2 separate regions of the Homo sapiens genome follow, and region 1 is linked to region 2. A link means that fine-mapping ties the variant in region 2 to the expression of a gene that starts in the linked region. Tissue or cell type: whole blood. Region 2 holds a variant in brackets; the other region holds the start of a gene. All regions are shown on one strand. Distances are from middle to middle.

Evidence for each region. PIP is the estimated chance that this variant, and not a neighbour inherited with it, causes the effect.
Region 1: COMTD1 starts here. The variant in region 2 is fine-mapped to the expression of COMTD1 in whole blood (TOPMed, PIP above 0.99).

The regions. Positions count from the first base shown.
Region 1 is chr10:75,234,484-75,237,088 of GRCh38, forward strand. It overlaps COMTD1 (catechol-O-methyltransferase domain containing 1), which reads right to left and starts at 1,474. Exons shown (of 7, transcript NM_144589.4): 1 at 1,352-1,474; 2 at 1,133-1,260; 3 at 784-889; 4 at 577-695; 5 at 455-509; 6 at 127-260. The coding sequence starts at 1,445. RefSeq lists silencers at 203-432, 593-882, 1,013-1,092, 1,253-1,392, 1,428-1,722.
Region 2 is chr10:75,018,865-75,021,617 of GRCh38, forward strand. KAT6B (lysine acetyltransferase 6B) reads left to right here. Exons shown (of 18, transcript NM_012330.4): 14 at 1,718-1,949; 15 at 2,262-2,421. Among named protein-coding and RNA genes, the nearest start is that of SNORD172, 1.5 kb to the right of the region's middle. The variant G/T (reference allele first, on the strand shown) is at 1,661.

The DNA of each region.
Region 1 (2,605 bases), 220 kb after region 2:
CCCCGGAGGGGGTGTAGCCTACGTGACTGGACTGGGTGGGGCTTTGGGGTATAAGAGGAGTCAAGGGAAAAGATGGGGACCCGGCCCGACAGGGTGCTTTCTCCTCCCCCGCAGTGGATCCCTTACTCTGAGGACGGCGAGGATGCCTCCGGGTCGCAGCAGCTGCAGGCAGCGCTCGTAGTAGGCGGAGCAGTTCTCCTTGTCCGCATCCACCACGGCCACGTCGAAGGTGCCGGCCTCGCCCGCCGCCAGCAGCTCGTCTTGCGGGGGGAGGGAGGGCAGGTGCGGCTGAGTCCGCGGCCCCGGCGGCCCTGAGGCCCCTCCCAGGCCGGCCCGGGCTCTGTGACAACCGGCCCTGCCCTTAACCTGCCCGGCAGGCCCAGTCACAGCTCGGCCACACAGCAGCCTCGTTTGCAATGAATGGCTTCAAAGCCCTTCCCGCTTCGGTGCTCACCCAGGGTCTCCAAGGCGGGCTTCAGCCGGAGGTCGATCTTGTGCTCCGCCTCGGCCTGCGGAGGGAGCGGGTCAGCCGTTGCGCCCCCGCCTGGGGCTGCAGAGCTAGGCGCGGGCGCTCACCTGCCTCCACAGGGGCCGTCCCAGCTCCGGGGGCTGCGCGTCCACCTCGCAGGTCACCACGCGCCCGTCCGCGGGCAGCGCCAGGGCCAGGGCCAGGGCGGAGTAGCCCGTGAAGGTGCCTGGGACCAGGACACAGACGGGCTCAGCCCAGAGTGGGGGTCGGCCCGGAAACCTCGGCCCTCCGGGATCCCGGCCGCGTGCCCCTACCCAGGTCCAGCGCCTTCTTGGCCTGGATGAGCCGCGCCAGGTTGGCCAAGAGCTGGGCCTGCTCGCAGGTCATCATAGAATCCCCCTGCGGCTGCTCCAGGGTCAGCTGCGTGAAAGGAGAGGGTGGCACCAGCCATGCAGGTCACCCACCTTCGCCCTGGGGGTCCCAAGCCCCAGGGGCGCGGTTCTGGGCGTGGCCTGGGGGACTGGCCCTTCGGAACGCCCACCGCACCCGGCCCAGGGAAGCCGGAAGCCCAGGGAGGGCCAGGGCCCAGCCCAAGGTCACACAGCCACGTGGGACCCGCAGGGGTCGAGAGGGACGCCCGTTTCCGTCCCGCGCCCTGCTGACCAGCCTCAGGCTTCGCAGCGCCGGGTGCTCCCGCATGGAGCGGCTCAGAAGATACTGCCACAGGCGGCTGTCCTCGGGGGGAAGCAGGCACTGCTCTCGCCGGCCTCGCCATGGGGGGCACCGCCTCCCTGACGGGGAGAGGGTGTTGGATTAACCTGAGCCACGCCGCGCCCTACTCTGCGCCCGCCCACCCGCCCGCCGGGACCAGGTCCTGCTCACCCAGGAAGAGGCCAGTGGCGAAGGCGGCGCCCAGTGCGGCTGAGCCCAGGGCCAGCGCGGCGGGCACGGAGAGCCGGGGCACCGGCTGGGTCATGGCGCGGGCAGGAGGCGGCGGGAGGCAGTGACAGGTCACGTGAGCTGGAGCTCCTGGGACAGGTCTCGGACTCGCGGGCCCGCCGGGCTCCACCTTGTCGGGGCACTACCCGCGGAGCCGCGGTCTCGGGCATCATCTGGCGGCCACACAGCCTTACTGCAAGCCCCGCCCGAGAGAGCCGGGCGCGATCTGGTGGCCGCGCCGGGAACTGCGCCCCTGCGGGGAGCAGGCCAAGCGCCTAGATCTGAATTTTCCCGCCTGTGCCCGCAGTCCAGGTGCCTGCCTCCATTCCCCTCCTGCCAATGCTTTTTTCTCCTCGCCACCATTTATTCTGAGGCCCCTTGGGGGCATATGTGAATTGTGTATGGAGGGCGCCAGTGTAAGTTACAAGATAGTCACAAGTACAAGAGATAGAGATTAAAGGGGGAAGGCCTCCTGGACAAGATGCCCCAAAGCATCAGGCTGAAGGAGTGAGGGAACTGGTTTGAGGGCATGCAGCCTCGAATTGGGGTTCAGGAGCCCTGGGGTGGGCCTGTGGAACTGAGACCATATTCTTAGCTGTTAAAATCCTGCTTTTGGGGGCCAGATGGATACGAGTGTCTAATCTTGGTCCTGCCAGTCTCTCTGAGCCTCAGTTTCCTTCCTGTAAAATGAGGCCTACAATCTTACCATAAAAGGCACCAGATCCCACAGCTTCGCACACAGTAGCACAATACATAAGTGGCAGCTGCTGTTATGTTGGTAGGTTGGAATGAAGACATCTTGGGGAGAAAGCCGGTGAAGCTCCCTTGCAAGGTTGTTCTGTTGAAACACTGTCCAGAGAACACTGATTGAACCCCTACCATGCGCCAAACTCCGGAGGAGGTGAAAGACGCTGACGCTGTCCTTTTTTTTTTTTTTTTTGAGACTGAGTCTCGCTCTGTCACCCAGGCTGGAGTGCAGTGGCACAATCTGGTCTCACTGCAACCTCCACCTCCTGATTCAAGCGATTCTCCTGCCTCAGACTCTGGAGTAGCTGGGACTACAGGCACGCACCCCTACACCCAACTAATTTTTGTATTTTTTGTAGAGACGGGTTTTGCTATTTTGGCCAGGCTGGTGTCAGACTCCTGGCCTCAAGTGATCTGTTTGCCTCGTCCTTCCAAAGTGCTGGGATTACA
Region 2 (2,753 bases):
CTCTATGGTTCTCACCCCCCCAGGAGTACAAAGCTGGGACCCCCCAGCCTCCTGGGTACGTTTCTCAGCATGTGCCAAGCACTTTGGAGGCAGGTGACGGATGTGCCAATTATCTGTATTCTGAGGTGTGGGCTCCCTTCATACTCTGGCAACACAGAGACGTAGAGAGCTCTTCTTCGTGTTGACAGGACACAATATGGGCTGGCTTCGGCACAGTGGCCATCACTGTGTTAGCATTCCTGACACACTGCTATTGAAAGCCCCAATCTGCTGCCAAATTACATGTAGACAGTGGTTTCACTGTAAAATGTTGCGGTGCTTGTTTGCATTCAGTCAAATACTTTGCACTTAAACATGGGTTAAAGAGACAAATAAGTCAAAAGACCTTAGCAAAACCTGAAGTTAAATTTACGCCTATTCTTCATAATGGCATTCAGATTAAAGCCATCAAAATGCAAAATGCTGTGATTATACCCTTCGAGGGTTCAGGCTGGATTCTTGTTTTGTATTTCTGCATTACTGTATTTGCAGTGATTTTGAGATGCAGGAAAATGCATCAGAGGCATTGATTTCTTCTTTAACAAAAAATAACCCTAAAATTGAGAAAATTCTTGAGAATGCAGCCATTTTGGAAATGTAGATAAAGAAGAAAAATGCTGAAGATTTGGGTGGTTTATGGAGCCGTATGATTTTGTCATTGCTGCCACCTACTGTATGTGGTTGATGTTTGTTTAAACTTAGGAAGTTCATGAAGGTGAGGCTGTTGAAATAGATAATTAGAGCAAGGTAGACATCATTAGCTTATAGCATTTCTTTTCTACCCCATAAGTGGCTCTTAATTACTGAGACAGCCGCCAGCTTTCATTCATTACCTTCAAGTGGATTTAAAGGGCTGGTTTCTTTTTTTTTTTTTTTTTCCATTTTTAAAGTTCCTTTGCCAAGGAACCTTCACAGTAATGCTGTAAAATGCGTTCAAAAGCTTAAGATGCTGGGGGATTTTCTGAGCATACATGCAATAGGTTGTTTTAAGGAGTTTGTTTTGTTTTGTCTTAATTTGTAGGAGCAATATTCTGGGATTGGATTGTAAATTAATTTCTATGAAAGAGGTGAAAATGGAGCTAGTGGAGCTGATGGGAGTTGCAGCAGTTGACTTGAAAGACATTCTTTTATTAGTCCTAAAACAAAGCTTCAGATCAACCTGCTAGTTAAATGTAACAAGCAATATAGACTCTGAGTCAACAGAGGTCCTTCTCTTTTTATTAAGACCCAGCTGTCAAAGGGTCATTAGGTCCTTCCTGTGGAAAACAACTTGCCCATTAATGTTGGGGGTGGTCCCTCGACAGGATTTCTGAGTAAGTGCCTGACATTTCGTTTTTGAAAGAATCTAAAGCTGTGGGAGACTTAGATGTTGAGACTTAGCAGGAGTAATGTCTTCAACCATAGCTTTTAGTCTTTGTTAAATATGTCACAATATGTGTTTGGAATGCTGCTGCTAGCTGCGTGAATTGACTTAGAGTGCCACTGTCAAAGATTCAGGAGCGTAAACTTCACGGAGATCAAATCACTATAACTGGGAAGAGGCTACATTCCTAAAGCGAATGCACTTCTCTGTTGTGATGTTTTTACCTTGTCACTACTCATATTATTTCTAGTGGCTCCT[G/T]TTCTAAGCTCTGGGAATGCCACAGTGAGGAATGCCCATTTATTTTTTCTGCCCTAGGCTATTTGCTTTCTAGAAGAGAAGGCCAAGCAGGGTCTCCTGAAAAGCCTCTCTCCGATCTGGGCCGTCTCTCCTACCTGGCATATTGGAAGAGCGTCATCTTGGAGTATCTCTACCACCACCATGAGAGGCACATCAGCATCAAGGCAATTAGCAGAGCGACGGGCATGTGCCCACATGACATTGCCACCACTCTGCAGCACCTCCACATGATCGACAAGAGAGATGGCAGGTGAGTCCTGGGACCCTGGGCAGCTCCGTGGCTCAGGCATCCCACACCAGAAAGGGTCCCTGGAGATAGGTGCATTCATTCCAGTTAAAGACTGAGGTTCCCTAACAGTATTATCAAACCTTTTCTCCTAAAAATAACACATGAAATGACACTTTTTTACTGGTTGGATTCCAGTGTTCTGTACCCTCTCATTGAGGTGCTTTCTGATTTTTCCTAACGCAGATAACATTAGTGCTAGCATATGTCCGTATGTGAAGCTGAAGTGAAATTTCAGCTTGTGATTACATCTTGTTCTGCCTTATCACATTACAGATTTGTCATCATTAGACGGGAAAAGTTGATATTGAGCCACATGGAAAAGCTGAAAACCTGTTCCAGAGCCAATGAACTTGATCCAGACAGTCTGAGGTGGACCCCAATTTTAATTTCTAATGCTGCAGTGTCTGAAGAAGAGCGAGAAGCTGAGAAAGAGGTAATGATTGTCTTTATCATCCTAAGTTGTGTAACTTCAATCTTGTAGCATTCTTAAGCTAAGAAAGTCATTAAGATCGTTGTCAAAAGCTTGGTTATGTAGAGATAGCATGTGAAATGATATGGCACTAATTTATCCTAACTGAGGTTGCATGGTAAGACATGATAATTTTATTGAATTGAGTATGAAAAATGAAACATTTATCATTGATTACAAAGCAGCATTTTTCACTACTGAGAGCATGTAATCAGATCAAATTCGGTGCTGAGCTCCAAGGCTGCAGTGTCAATTGATTCTTTGTGTTTATGAACTTGCTTAAAGTGCTCCTTGCC